Regions from separate parts of the Homo sapiens genome. Here all the other regions are linked to region 1. Evidence: fine-mapped expression QTL. A gene starts in region 1. Each other region holds a variant in brackets. All regions are shown on one strand. Distances are from middle to middle. Region 1 holds the start of PRDX6-AS1 (PRDX6 antisense RNA 1). Region 2 overlaps PRDX6-AS1 (PRDX6 antisense RNA 1). Region 3 overlaps RABGAP1L (RAB GTPase activating protein 1 like).

Region 1 (5,340 bases):
CTTTTTTAATATGGCTACCATAAAATCTTAAATTACATATGTGGCTCACATCATATTTATACTGGAGAGAGTTGTACTAGAGCATGTTTGTATGCTAATATAATGATCTAGTAGAGAATCAGGAATTGATGATGTAGAAAGAGAAAGAGTAGGGAAAAGAGAAAAGACCTTTAGAGCTTAAGCAGATAAGGGGTGATGGACATCATACATAGATCAACAAACAAGTAGAGAAAGGCATGTACATAGATAATATTTGTTGTATCCTTTATACAGAAAGAACTCACTCTTTTTAAACAGCCATGAAGCAGTAATAAACATTTATCAAGGACTAAGTCACAAATAAAATCTCAAATATCTAAAGGTACAGATCACATGGTAATCAAACAAGAAATCAGTATGAAAAAGACAGCAAACTCAATCTAATTACATGGACATTATAAAACAGTTTTCTAAACAACTCTTGGATTAAAGTGGAAATCAGTACTAGAACACAGACTGTTTGAAATTACCAATGAAACAACACTCCATTTCAAAGCTTATGGGATACAACCAAAGTCTTAACTCAAAGGAAAATTCAGAGCTTTCAGTGATCTTCTTAATATATACGGAAGATTGAAAGTAAATGATCTAAGCACCCAGTTCAAGAAAGTTTAAAAAAATTAAAAAAAAAAAAATAAGCCAACAGAGAATAGGAGAAACTAATAAAAATAAAATTCAAAATTAATGAACTAGAAAGCATGGCAAAACAAAATTGCATAGACCTGGTAAATAAAGCAATTGTTTTATTTTGTTTTTGTTTTTAGAATACAACATACAAACCATTAATAAGTGTGAACAAGAAAAAAAGAGAAAGAAAATGCAAATATCTACAACAAGGAAAGAAAAATAATTCAGCATTAAGAGATTTTTAAAATTCTAAAATTCCAAATACCCACCAGTAAATTAGAAAATCTACATGAAATAGACAAATTTTTAGCAAAATGCAGATTACTAATATTAGCTCATGAAGAGAGGAAATTATCCCAATAATCAAAGAAAAACTTGAAAATGCAGCAAAAGCTCTAACTTCAAAAAAAGCACCAGTTCCAGTTTGTTTTATCAGTAAGTTCTAATACATCATAAAGAACAGATAATTCCTGGATTATTTAAACATTCGGCCAGTACAAACTATGAAAAACTTCCCAATACACTTCACTGACAAATTTAATTCTGATACTAAAGTATACTAAATACTAAACAATAGTAAAAATAAAATACATATTGGGTTATTCTTAAAATCCAAAGTCAAATATTAGCAAGTCTAATTAAGAATGCTTTTGACAGCAAGTAACAGAAACCCTGACTCCAATTATCTTTAAAAATGAGGGTATTTCTGAACTCAACAGAAATCTAGAAGTAGGATAAGTTTTAGGATGGGTTGTGGTTTAATTACGTTATTAAGAACCCAGGGGAGGGGGGCCAAGTTGGCCAATTAGAAGCAGCAGCTGTCTGTGGCACTCAGGGAGAGGAAGAAAGGAGCAAGTGAATATAGCACCTTCAACTGAAATATCCAGGCACTCACACTGGGACTGATCACAGAAACAACTCGACCCATGGAGAAGAGAGAAAAGCAAGGTGGGGCAATAGCCCACCTGGGAGCAACATGAAGCCAAGAGAACTCCCACCCCCAGCCAAGGGAAGCAGTGAGTGAGTGTGCAACCCCAGGAAACCACGCTTCTCCCACGGATCTTTGCAACCCACAGATCAGGAGATCAGTGCACCCACACCACCTTGTGCACCCACATCACCAGGGTCTTGGGTCCCACACACAGAGGTGTGTTGAGTCTCAGCAGAGCAGCTGCTCAGGCATGCATAGAGATCCAGGAACTTTACATATTCCGGCCCCAGGATCCCCAACAGAGGTGTCTGTAACTCAGGCAAGGTGGGAGGTCTGTACATACCCCTAGGAAGGGGGCTGAATCCAGGGAGCCAAGCAGCATCAATCTGTGGGTCCCACTTCCACAACACCTCACAAAATAAGACCTACTGGCTTGGAATATAGCCTACCTGTGATGGGACAGAGTCCCCAGTGGGAGGGGTGGGCTGCCATCTCTACTGTTTGGTTGACTCAGCCATTTCAGTCTATGGGCTTCGGAGAATCCATATGGTTCAAACAAGGAAGGGTCTTCCCAGAACACTACAGCGGCATTGCCTGAACGTGGCCAGGTTGCTTCTTTAAGTGGGGCCCCAATCCATTCCTCTTCACTGGGAGGGACCTCCCAACCGGGGCCTCCAGCCATCTCTGCCTGTATTCCACAAACGGATCCTGATCTCTTTCTGGAATAGCATGCCCGAGGGGAGGCGAGGAGGGAAGGAGGAGGGGAGGGGAGGAGGGGAGGAAAGGAGGGCCACCAAGCTGGCTGTTTGAATGACTCAGCCATTCCAACCAGTGGGCTTTAGAGAGTCCAAGCCAACAAGGGCAGAAGCAGTTTCCCAGCACAACAAGGCTGTTCTATTGAGGCATGGCCAGATGGCTTCTTTAAGTGGGACCCTGATCCACTTTTCCTTGACGGGTAGATCATGCCAGCTGGGGTATCCAGCCACCCCCGCCCATGTTCTGTGGCCAACAGACTTCTAATTTTTCCCTGGGACAGAGTGCCCAGAGGGGAAGGCGGGCCACCAACTTGGCTGTTGGGCACCTCAGCCAGTTCAGCCTGTGGGCCTCGGAGAGCCCAAACCAACAAGGGGCTGATGGGATCCCCAACACAGCACAACTGCTCTATCAAAAACAGCCCAACTGCTTCTTTAAGTGGATCCCTGATCCCGTTCCTCCTGACTAGGTGAGATGTCCCAACTGGGGTCTCCAGCCACCCCCTACATACTGTGTGCTCATGCTGGCAACAGGACAGTACCGCCCTGGGATGGAGCTTCCAGGGGAAGGGGCAGGCTGCCATCTTTGCTGTTTCATAGCATTCACTGCTGATACCTCCAAGTACAGGAAAAACTGAGGCAACCAGGGTGTAGAGTGGACCCCCAGCTAACTGCAGCATCTGTAAGGAAGAGTAAACAGACTGCTAAAAGAAAAAGATGAAAAAACAAAACAATCCATGAAAGCGCCATCCAAAGGTCAGCAACCTCAAAGATCGAAGATAGATAAGCCCACAAAAATGAGAAAGAATCAACGCAAAAATCTTGAAAATTCAAAAACCCAGAGAGCCCCTTTTCCTCCAAATGATCACAACACCTCTCCAGCAAGGGCTCAGAACTAGGCTGAGCCCAAGATGACAGAAGTAAGCTTCAGAATGTGGACAAAAGCCAATTTTGCTGAGCTAAAGGTGTATGTCCTAACCAAAGGCAAAGAAGCTAAGAATCATGATAAAACAATGCAGGAGCTGACAGCCAAAACAGCCAGTATAGAAAGGACCATAACCGACCTCACAGAGCTGAAAAACATACTACAAGTACTCGCAATGTAATCCCAAGTATTAATAGCAGAATAGACCAAGCAGAGCAAAGAATCCCAGAGCTTGCAGACTATCTCTCTGAAATAGGACAGGTAGACAGGAATAGAGAAAAAAGAATGAAAATGAATGAATAAAACCTCTGAGAAATATGGGTTTATGTAAAAGGACCAAACCTACAACTGATTGGGGTACCTGAAAGAGACAGGAAGAATAGAACCAAGTTGGAAAACATACTTCAGGATATCATCCAGGAGAATGACCCCAACCTAGCAAGATAGGCCAACATTCAAATTCAGGAACAAGAGAACCCCAGTAAGATAACTATTCAAGAAAATCATCCCTAAGATATGTATCAGCAGATTCTCCAAAGTCAAAATGAAAGAAAAAATGTTGGCTGGGCACAGTGGCTCATGCCTGTAATCCCAGCACTTTGGGAGGCCAAGGTGGGTGGATTACTTGAGGTCAGGAGTTCAAGACCAGCCTGGCCAACGTGGTGAAACCCTGTCTCTACTAAAAATACAAAAATTAGCCAGGTGTGGTGGCACATACCTTTAGTCCCAGCTACTCAGGCTACTCAAGAGGCTGAGGCAGGAGATTTGCTTGAACCCAGGAGACAGAGGTTGCATTGAGCTGAGATCGTGCCACTGCACTCCAGCCTGGGTGACACAGTGAAACTCCATCTGAAAAAAAAAAGAAAAAAGAAAAAAATGTTAAGGACAGCCAGAAAGAAAGACCAGGTCACCTACAAAGGGAAGGCCATCGGACAAGCATTGGGCCTCTGAGTGGAAACCCTACAAGCCAGAAAAGATTGGGGGCCAGTATTCAATATTCCTAAAGAAAAGAATTTCCAACCCAGAATTTCATATGCAAACTAAGTTTCATAAGCAAAGGAGAAATAAGATCCTTTTCAGACAAACAAATGCTGAGGAAATTCATCACTACCAGACCTGCCTTACAAGAGCTCCTGAAGGAAGCACTAAATATAGAAAGGAAAAACCATTACCACTACAAAAACACACTGACATACCAATGATACAATGAAGTATCCACATAAACCTGCAAAATAACCAGCCAGCATCATGATGACAGGATCAAATCCACACATAAAAATGCTAATCTTAAATGAAAATGTGCTAAATGCCTCCCAAAAAAAGATACAGAATAACAAGCTAGATAAAGAGCCAAGACCCATTAGTATGCTATCTTCAAGAGACGCATCTCACGTGCAAAGACACACATAGGCTCAAAATAAAGGGATAGAGGAAAATTTACCAAGCAAATGGAAAACAGAAAAAAACAGGTGCAATCCTAGTTTATAACAAAACAGACTTTAAATCAACAAAAATCAAAAAAGATAAAGAAGGCCACTACATAACAGTAAAGGGTTCATTTCAACAAGAAGAGCTAACTAACCTAAGTATATATACACCCAATACAGGAGCACCCAGAAAAAGAAAGTACTTAGAGACCTTCAAAGAGACTTAGACTCACACACAATAATGGTGGGAGACTTTATCACCCCACTGACAATATTAGGCAGATCATTGAGACAGAAAATTATCAAAGACATTCAAGACCTCAACTCAGCTCTGGATCAAGTGGGCCTGATAGCTATATACAGAACTCTCCACTCCAAAACAACAGAATATACATTCTTCTCATCGCCACAGCACTTACTCTAAAATTGATCACATAATTGGAAGTAAAACACTCCTTGGCAAATGCAAAAGAACTGAAAACATACCAAAGAGTCTCTCAGACCAAGGTGTAATCAAATTAGAACACAAGATTAAGAAATTCACTCAAAACCATATAACTACATGGAAAATGAACAATCTGCTCCCGAATGACTTTTGGTTAAATAATGAAATTAAGGCAGAAATCAAGAAGTTCTTTG
Region 2 (5,000 bases), 43 kb before region 1:
TCTTTTTTAGTATGCTTGATATTTACTGAGAAGAATGCAAATGCTCTTTCTAACTGGTATTCAGGAGCTGGGTTGAGGGCCTGTTTTTGTTTGTCTGTTTTGTTCATAGTATTTTTGCCTAAATGTGCGTATCTGTGGGACTGATGAAATTATGAAAGAAAAATGACAGCTGTGCAAAACTGGTGCATGGAAGAAAAGGAATGTCATGATGTGGGACTGCCAGGTCCACCGGGCCTCTGCAGCAAACCGATGGGGCAGGGAGTAGGTTGGGAGCCAACCAGGCCAGAAGATTGGCTCCTTTGGGAGTTGGTGAGCTGTCCAAATCAATGCCCAGGGAGGTAGAGCCAACCCAGGCTCTCCTAGGTTGGTCCTTGTCTCTAAAGGCAGGGTCTGTCGGTGAGATGTGGTGGGTGGTGATAGTGTAGCTCTCTGGGCACATGTAGGCTAAGCAGTGGCAGCAGCTGGGCTGTGGGTGGTCTGCCCAATATGTCACAGATCTCTGGCCTACAGCTGGGGCTCAGAACATGGTCCAAATTTGCAAAGGAGACATCCTGGGCTGGCCTGAGTAGGCAGCAGCGTGGCTTAAAGCAAGTCCCCTGCCCAGAGGCAGGCAAATGGAGCATCTTCCTGAACAAAGACAAGCACTACAGAGGGATGACGGAGAGAACCAGAGGGCAGAGGAGAGGGAAGGGGACCAAAGGGGCACCTGTGGAGGGTGGGCAGTGGCAGCTTACAGGGCCCTCCCCAACAGGGCCCAAGGGTCTCCCAGCCCAGTAACAATATCTTCATTATCATCCTGGCCAAAACATTGCTTCCTTTCACTGAGGACATTATAAATGTTATTTTTTTATTTTTATTTATTTATTTATTTATTTATTTTTTGAGAGAGAGAGAGAAGATCTCACTCTGTTGCCCAGGCTGGAGTGCAGTGATGTCATTTTGGCTCACTGCAACCTCAGCCTCCTGAATTGCTGGGACCACAGATGTGCGCCAGCATGCCCGGCTAATTTTTGTATTTTTAGTAGAGACAGGGTTTCGCCATGTTGCCTAGGCTGATCTCAAACTCCTGGACTCAAGCGATCCACCCGCCTCGGCCTCCCAAAGTGCTGGGATTACAGTTGTGAGCCATTGTGGCCGGCCACAAATGTTATTTTTAAAGCACACACACATTCCTGGTGGAAGGTAAGTATCCTCAGCACCCATTTCCTGAAACGTCTTTTAATCATCACAATATGGAGATTGTATTATTATCTCTATTTTAAAGACAGGGCAGTATTTTCCTGGGGCAGTATTTCCCAAATTGTGTCCCACGGAATGCTAATAACAGTACTAAGAGGTAAGTGGTGCTCACTTTTGAAAATGCTCCTATAGCCAAATATTTTTGAGAAATAATGCAGAGGAATGGTGCATTTGTGAGCATAGACCCAGGAGTCAGAGACACCTCGGTTTGGGGCCGAGCCCCACTGATTATCAGCTTTGCGGGTGCAGCAATAATAATCCTAGCTTCCTTATCTGGGATGTGGGAATAATGAAATACCCGCTTCATAAGGTTCGTGTGAGGGTTGATGTTATGAGGTAACAAATGTAAAGCTCTTAGCACATAGCTGGTGCAAAAAAAGTCTTCAATAAACAAGAACTCTTATTGGCATTGTAGCAGGTTAAATATTGTTAACATCTTACAGCTAGACCTATAATTTTTTTAGGGAGAGATCAATTTTGTTTAGGAAAACATCTTAATAAACCACGTGGAAGCGTGGCCAGCAATGAGACTCTGAAGTTACAAGCCATCAATAACCAAGACCAAAACCTAGAAAACCAAGTTTGAAAAAGCCAGAGTCCCATAGAGGGTGAGTACTGATTTCTCTCATTGCCTGACATTATAACAAAGAGGTTCAGGGCACAAAGATGAGATCTCACCTCCGTCTTCACCTCCCTCTTTTTAGTACTACTCCATCCTTTACAGATTCACCTACACACACTCACACATGCACACACACCACTCCCTTTTCAGGAAGAAAGCTACAGGCTCCAGTTAATTAGAAATTCTACTATTTCAGCTTTATTACTTCCTCTTTACTCTCTGAACTTTAAAGGAACACATTTCTGTAAAGTTTAAATTATTTCAATGAGGTGTATTACCTTTTTAACTGGGGGTGGGAGGGAAGCACTTTTTTTTTCTTTTTTTTTTTTTTAATGTTGAAGACTCCACTCAGTCATTTGAGCTCCAGGAAGCCTTCCCTGGCCACCCATAAGTTAAGAGAAGAGCCCCTCTTCTGAGCTCCCAGAGCACCCACTTCATACCTATGCTATAGAACACACCGCCAAGGACGGAAATTATCCAAAGGTTTGTGTCCATTGATTGCCATGCCAGGCATCCAGCTCTGCTGAAGCACGCAGGGGCCCTGACTTCCTCATTAGGTATTCTCAACACCTCCACCAGCAGCTGGTAGGCAGCAGAGCTATTGTTACTGAGCTGCCCACGGCACCAATGGATCTATGAATGAACCTGAACGTCTTCCCTGGAGAAAAGCACTTGCTTGTCAAGGGAGGAACAGGGGTCTGAAATGCTAACCCCTGCCCTATAGTATGGGTGTGCATACGGTGCACCTTCCAAAGCCCAGAGTGGCATTCTTATTACATCCCGGAAACCCCCTGGTCAGGGGCTTTTGGGGTGACATCCAATATGTAAATACCAGGGTCGGGTCCTGCTGAGTGGCATAACAGTGCCATATGTGAAAGTTCCACCAGCAGCAGAGGGCTCTTTCATTAGTCATTTCACTGCACACAGCTGTAAGGAATCTGGCGAAGCTTGATTTGGCTGGGAGGAGTGCATTTTCCACTTGTAGGCGTCTTGAAAACTTTCATAC[TA/T]AAAAAAAAAAAAAAATTAACAACAAGAAAATCATCATAGTCCAAAATGAGAAGCCAGAAATTGAAGGTGGAGAGCCAGGGTAGCAAACATAATGGAGGGACTCCAAGACCGGGCTTCCACCAGGACCCTACACTGACTCACAGATGTGTAATGGTCATGGCGAGCCTTACATGTAAACAGAGATCCCAACATGTCCCAGAGGTAGTGGCTGTGGAAGCCTGGGCAGATGCCAGGCAGTATTCTAAGGTTAAGCATTGCTATGGTTTGAATGTGACCCCCAAATTTCATGTGCTGGAAACTTAATTCCCAAATTCACATATCGATGACATTTGGAGGTAGGGCCTTTGAGAGGTAATTAAGATTAAATAAGGCCATGAGTGTGTGGCCCCCACGGTGGGGCTGGTGGCTTTATAAGAAGAGTTAGAGTAACCTGGCCGGGTGCTGTGGCTCACGCCTGTAATCCCAGCACTTTGGGAGGCCAAGGCGGGCAGATCACGAGGTCAGGAGATCGAGACCATCCTGGCTAACACGGTGAAACCCCATCTCTACCAAAAAAATACAAAAAAATTAGCCGGGTGTGGTGGCGGGCACCTGTAGTCCCAGCTACTTGGGAGGCTGAGGCAGGAGAGTGGCCTGAACCTGGGAGGCGGAGCTTGCAGGGAGCTGAGATCACACCACTGCACTCCAGCCTGGGTGACAGAGCAAGACTCCGTCTCAGAAAAAAAAAAAAAAAAGAAGAGTTAGAGTAACCCAAGCGGACAAGCCTGCTCTTGCCCACTTGCCATGTGATGCCCTCTGCCACGTGAGGATGCAGCAAGAAGGCCTTCACCAAATGCCAGCACCATGTGCTTGGACTTCCCAGCCTCCAGAACTATAAGCAATAAATTTCTTGTCTTTATAAATGATCCAGTCTGTAGAATTCTGTTACAGCAATGGACTAAGACAGGCATGATTTGGGGTACAGAGAAGGAAAACTGAGAGGTCACAGAAGAGAGAGGAGGGTGGAAGCTGGGGGAGAGGCACTGATGGAACCAGCTTCCACCCTTCCCTGCAGGGCTTGGAAAGACCCATGAGGACACAAGGGAGAATAAAAGGAAGCAGCCCTGATTGCCATGGCTGGGTCAGGGTCAGGAGGCTAGGACTGCTTTATGTCCCTGCTATAATGGACTTATGGGTTTTTTAAGATTTTTTAAAATAGATTAACTATAGCTCCTAGAGCTGACTCTACTGATAACTTTACCCTGGACTCCCTCCCTGATTTTGACCTTAGTTTGTGTGGCGGGGGGGGGGATGAGAGGCTGCGGTCCAAATGGAATGCAGTTTGCCTGTCCTCTATCAGCATCAATGCATCACCTTTCCCCCGATTTTTACCTCATGATATATTTATGCATTTAACGCATGTTTATTGAGTGAGCTGCATGCAGCAAAATGCACGTAAAAAGCAATTTTTTTTCTTTTTTCTTTGTCCTTTCAACTCCTCTCTCTGGATTTGCCTTGTCCCTGCACTTGAGATGAAAGCTAACCAATACCACGGATTTTCTAGCCACTCTGAGCCATTAAATAAAGAGGCTCTTTAAAACAAACAAACAAAAAAAAAAGTAAAAAACAGTCTACTCAACCTGAAGCTTCTCCCCTCTCAGACTCCTTCACTTCAGGTTTGGAAACTCGGTACCAAGGAGGAAGGCATGGACTTCACCATTTTCTCTCCTCCACCTCTCGTAGCCAGCTGCTAATTCTCAAGCCTCAAGCTGTGAGAGATTGAGAACTGAGGGAAAGGACACAGTACTTGACGGCTCTTACTGTCATGACGCGGCCTTGGTGCCCTCTGGGTTTAGCATGTTTTCCAACGCTTTCCTTTCCAGCCTCACTTAGGCACATTGCAGTTAAAGAATATGGCCACCAGGTGGCAGTAAAGGCCTTTTTTTTTCCTGGCCAGTAGACCCTACCCTCCGGTTTTATATGGCTACATAATTTCTTTAAGATGATGTCAAATATGCTTTCCCTACATTTCAAAAGAAAAGAAAGTAAACACTTAAAACCACAAACTGGTCAACTTAGCAAAAACTAAATATAATTTAAAGATGATGCCCTAGGGAATAAACGTGTAAAGAAAACCTCCCAAGTTGTTAAT
Region 3 (5,340 bases), 700 kb after region 1:
ATGAGCATTTTGCCATTACAAACAGTGGAGGCGGAGAAAGTACGGACTTGAGCCTGAGTTATGGTAAAACATACTCATTTTTAAAGGAGAGTTTTAATGCTGATATTATAGAGAAAGACATTGTTTGACTCCTAGACTTTCAGAACGGGAAATAATTTTGACTTTATAGTCAGTATTTGAATTGGGTATAAGTATGTGAACATCAGTGGACCCTAATAAGGAAGAGTTAATGAATTAAGAAGAGCTTGCATCTCTGAACATCTTCTTTTTATACTTCGTTTACTTCCCATATTGCTCTTATTCAACAGATGGGATGGCATAATTGGGTATACGAAGTTTATGCGCATGCTAACTCTTTTTTGTTATCTTTTGGTGTTTTTTGGTGTACTTTTTGGGGATTTTCCTGGGAAAGTTCTAGGCATATATTCAGTTGATTTAGAGTTAGATTTGGGCTAAGATTATTAGTATACTTGAAATTCTGAGCCTTCTTATTTTCTAAATAGCTTTTAAAGTAGAAAACATTTGCCAGTGCTGTTGGGCTTAAAAAAAAAAAAAACCCAACAACAACACAATTCTTTATAAATACTCATGAAAAATCTGGTTACAGGCTGTGTTGTGATAGACATAGTACAGCCAAAAATATATTTAAGAAAATTCTCACCCAGTTTAGTAAGCTTAAATAAGAGGAAAATAAGACAGTTTTTTTTTTTAATAAAAGGCTGATTTTCCCAGAATATGAAGCCTAACAACTGTTTGCTGTGTTATTTTCCCTGTTGCCTGTTCTAAATTCAGCAAGAACTATGCATCCCTAGTCCATGGTAAAAGCTTAGTTCCAGTAGGTGATTCTTAGTAATGGAAGTCTCATTGAGGGATGCAAGGGAATTTGATTGGGAAACATCAGGCATGGAACATTTACTTTTTACTGCTCTAATTTTCTGTGTATCTGGGTATTCAGTGGGGTGGGAACATGAGCACAAATACTAGAATTATCTGGATTTTTTTTTTATACTATGGATTTCCTCCTCTTACCCCCTACCTGCCCCCCAACCCATTGCTAAGTGAGCCATTGATAGTAGGAGTGTGTTATATCCTTCAGGTATGTAGGGCTGAACAAATGCTAAAAACCTTGGCACTTGGCTGATATTCCATAAACCAAATTCCTGCTCTGTGTAATTTGCCTTCTGGTGATATCAGTTTGTTACTCCCATTTTTGAAGAAAAATATGAATTGTGGTGAAGAGACATCTGTAACCAAGAGTAAGATTTATCAAATTATGTAGTATACATGAAGGACACCAGGAGATTGTTTACCTGAACATTTATTAAACTCATTTGACTGTGACCCACAATAAAAAATACATTTTACTACTTGATTCCGCAAGCGCACACACACACAAAGTTGAAAGTTTGGTGAAATAATATTTATCTTTTCAGGGCCCTACTGAGTTAGCTATAATGGCTTGCAAGACCAGTTGTGCATATTTCTTCCTATCTAGCTCTTTGTCCAGTGACATCATGTTGGTAGCTCAAAATTGGTCATGGTGGGAATATTTACACCAGGAAATTCAGCAAATGGTATTCTTAGGGCTTCCCTCCTCATAGGTAGTTGTTAAACATTTATAGCACCCCACTGCTTATAACACACATTGATATATTCTGTTATTTCATTTCATTTTAAAAATGCTGGGTTTTGACTTCCAAATTAATTTTACACCCAGCTAATGGATTATAGCCTACATTTAACAACAAATACAACTAGTTTAGCCTACCCTCTTAACTTTGTAAGTGAAGGAACATACTAAGAGCCTCAAGGCCAAGGTCAGATAGTGAGTTATTAGCAAAGCCAGGGCTCTGGACTCAATCTGGAGTTGTTTCTGGTGGGCTTCTTTCCTAACCTCACTTAGTGTGTATAAGGGATTGTGTTAATCAGTTTGAATAAAGATGGACCTTGACCCTGAGGACTTTATGCTTAGGTGGGGGATTAAATATGGAAACAACAGTGATAATGAAAGGCAGAAAGTAATGGGTGGTAAAAAGATAAAGATAAGGAACTATAAGAGTTTAGAGAGGAGGGAGAGATTACTTTTATTTTTGTTTGTTTGTTTGTTTTTCGTTTTTGACCCAGGCTGGAGTACAGTGGTACAATCTCGGCTCACTGCAACCTCTGCCTCCCAGGTTCAAGTGATTCTCCTGCGTCAGCCTCCCTGAGTAGCTGGGATTACAGGCGCCAACTGCCACACCAGGCTAATTTTTGTATTTTTAGTACAGACGGGGTTTCGCCATGTTGGCCCGGCTGGTTTTGAACTTCTGACCTCAGGTGATCCATCCGCCTCAGCCTCCCAAAGTGCTGGGATTACAGGCGTGAGCCACCGTGCCCGGTCT[A/G]CTTTTAGTTTTAAGGATAAAAGAAGAGGTGACATTTGAACTACTTTTTTTTTTTTTTTTAATTTGGAGACAGCATCTCACTCCCGTTACTCAAACTGAGTGCTGTGGTGCCATCACAGCTCACTGCATCCTTGATTTCCTGGCCTCTAACAGTTCTTCTGCCTCAGCCCCCAAGTGGCTGGGACTATATAGGCACACACCAACATGCTTGGCTAATTTTTCATTACTTGTAGAGACGGGGTCTCATTATGTTGCCCAGGCTGTTCTTGAACTTCTGGACTGAAACTGTCCTCCTGCCTCGGCCTCCCAAAGTGCTGGGATTACAGTTGTGAGCCACCACGCCCGGCCCCTGAACTATGCTTTGAAGAATGGGTAGGATTTGGACATGTGGAAATAGGACAACTAGTATGAGAGAAAGGCCTTTCTGGGCCAGGGGCCAGGGTGATCAAAGGCATACAAGCATAGACAGGGAAAAATGAGTAGTGAAAGAGCTAGGCAAGAAAGAGTCCGTTAGCACCAGATGGTTAAGAGCCTAGAATGCCAGTTTTCCTTTCTGCTTTTCAGTTTATCTTTCATTTTTGACTCTGGAGTAATCTAGTACTTCTTAACATTGAACAGGATTTATATGTTATGATTAAAATATGATCCAGAGAGCACATAAGTATCCTTAGAGTAGAAGCTGAAGGGAAAAATTATTAGTGTTAGAGAAGCAACCTTGAGTTTACCAATCCTAAAAGTGTTGGAAAGTGAAAAATATTTTATTTGTAAGGAGAGACAGTGTTTTTTTTTTGTTTGTTTTTTGTTTTTCTTCATTAGCGTCAAATTGGCTGTAGTAGAACAGGAAGCAGTTTTGAAAGTCTTTACAAGGGCCTTCTAAAATGTGATTTCTAAATGACTGGATCTTAATTTTTGGAGGCAGGTTTAGTTCAGGCAGAAGGGTAGTTTATACAGATCTGCAGCTAAGCTGAGTAGCTTTTAGAATTTAGGGCAGCAAAGCAGGGTATTTTATACAAAATCCACTTGTAAGGAATTGATGGCTTCTTTATTCCAAGAATTTTCTTAGATTTCAGCATTTATGTCTTTGACAGCCTGTATGACTGAAGATGTTTTGAAGTCTTGGATGGAACTTGCCTTGTTTCACAGGGGAATTGGGTAGCTAGAAATGAAGGTATAAATGCCAGTAAGTTGTGTCTGTTAATCAAGTTGAAGTACTGGTGGCAGTTCTCAAGCTTTTCTGTCTGCTGATGATTTCACACTTACTGCTTCTAATTAAATAGTGTGTAGTCGATTTGAAGAAGCCTTGCTTCTCTTTGACCCACCAGTTCTGTAAAGGTAAAAGCCTTCTTAGAGTGTTGCCCAGGTAACAACACATACAGAGACTGCTTAATAGCTCATCATGGAAGTGTGTGGAAAATTTTGGAAATGTTGGTAAAGAAGTTGCTATAGTAAATAACTACTTGGTTGGTAAAAAGCTGGGCTACTTCTGGATAGTTGATAAAGAGTTTTTGAGATGAGCCGTGGTTCTAAAATAAATATGAATTGTGTCATTGCCACACGATTTTCTTCAGTTATGTAAGCTCCTAATATGTAAATGTTGTCCTACCATTTTAGAAGGTGTCAGCAGTTTCATGTGACCTGTTCCACAATATAGCACACCCCAAACACCACGATAAGAGTTCAAATATGGCATGGCCCAGATGCCTCACACCAGTTAAATGATAAAGCTAATCATGTCAGCACAGTGTTTCTGTTAAAGTTTTTTCCCCCTCTTTTTTGAGGCATGTTAGTTTTCACGAATTGAGGTTATTAGAATCTTTCCAGATTTTCTGCCACCATTTTTTTTGTGTGTGTGGTAAAAAGTATAATGATGGTGCCCTTAATTAAATTATGTAAACATTTGTAAAGATATACACGCATACACATAGTGTGCATATATGTATGTGTAGACATACATACATATATATTTACATATCATTAGTTCTTGGAATTTGTGGTGAAAATACACCCACCTGGCAAATGGTTGAAAACAAGTGTTCTAGCTCTTTGAAGACTACCATGTGAGTATTCACAAATATGAAAGTAATGCAAACCCAAAGGGAGTTTTTGTATGCCCAATTTCAAGAAAGGAGCACATTTTAAAAGGCAAGTATGGAATTCATTCATATACCAGTGAGGAATTTCTCAACTTCTCCTTTACCCCACACATACACCCGTTTACCATTCTCATTATTAGCAGTAAGCAAAATTAGAAGACTTTAAGAATCAGACTTCTACTACAAGTGATGCAAATAAATATTATTTTTAGAAAAAATACAAACCTGTGGTTTTGAGTTATGAAGGTTTAAGAGACACATATCACTAGTTTTTTTTATAAACTACATGGAGTGTTTTCTGTGCTTCAAGATGTCGTAATTGTCATTGTGAGGCCTTTTGCTGAGAGCATTGTATAAAGGAATAGTTGTTAGAATGGTTATTAGGTGTTTCTTTGAATAGTTTATTTTTCTGTAGTCAATTTATCTTGCATACATTGATGGCCGGGGGTGGTGGCCCACACCTGTAATCCCAGCACTTTAGGAGGCCAAGGCAGGCAGATCACTTGAGGCTAGGAGTTTGAGCCTAGCCTGGCCAAGATGGTGAAACCCCACCTCTGCTAAAAATACAAAAATTAGCCGAATGTGGTGGTGTGTGCCTGTAGTCCCAGCTACTTGGGAGGCTGAGGCACAAGAATCCCTTGAACCTGGGAGATGGAGGTTGCAGTGAGCCAAGATCGTGCCACTGCACTCCAGCCTGAGCTACAGAGTGAGACTCGGTCTCAAAAAAAAAAAAAAAAAAAAAAAAAATTGAATAGAGTATACTACTTTAGTGAAAAATTGACCATTGAAAAATCAACCATTGAAGGGAGGTTATATATATATTGGCAGACAGTAGGGTTTCTGAAGTTGTTTTAGAATAATTTTGT

The links. PIP is the estimated chance that this variant, and not a neighbour inherited with it, causes the effect.
Region 2: its variant is fine-mapped to the expression of PRDX6-AS1 in whole blood (INTERVAL, PIP above 0.99). The same link has a PIP of 0.9 or more in skeletal muscle.
Region 3: its variant is fine-mapped to the expression of PRDX6-AS1 in whole blood (TOPMed, PIP 0.99).

What each region holds. Positions count from the first base shown.
Region 1 is chr1:173,458,332-173,463,671 of GRCh38, forward strand. PRDX6-AS1 (PRDX6 antisense RNA 1) reads right to left here and starts at 3,031. Exons shown (of 2, transcript NR_125960.1): 1 at 2,047-3,031. It overlaps LOC100506023 (a long non-coding RNA gene), which reads right to left. Exons shown (of 3, transcript NR_037845.1): 2 at 3,993-4,123. RefSeq lists an enhancer at 1,761-2,260.
Region 2 is chr1:173,415,757-173,420,756 of GRCh38, forward strand. PRDX6-AS1 (PRDX6 antisense RNA 1) reads right to left here. Exons shown (of 2, transcript NR_125960.1): 2 at 2,033-2,866. All of the region lies in intron 2 of LOC100506023 (a long non-coding RNA gene), which reads right to left. It also overlaps a transcript of TNFSF4 not described here. Among named protein-coding and RNA genes, the nearest start is that of PRDX6-AS1, 43 kb to the right of the region's middle. RefSeq lists enhancers at 408-537, 568-617, 2,426-2,765, 4,524-4,623. The variant TA/T (reference allele first, on the strand shown) is at 2,868.
Region 3 is chr1:174,163,070-174,168,409 of GRCh38, forward strand. The region is part of intron 1 of RABGAP1L (RAB GTPase activating protein 1 like); the gene reads left to right. Among named protein-coding and RNA genes, the nearest start is that of RABGAP1L, 6.2 kb to the left of the region's middle. The variant A/G (reference allele first, on the strand shown) is at 2,382.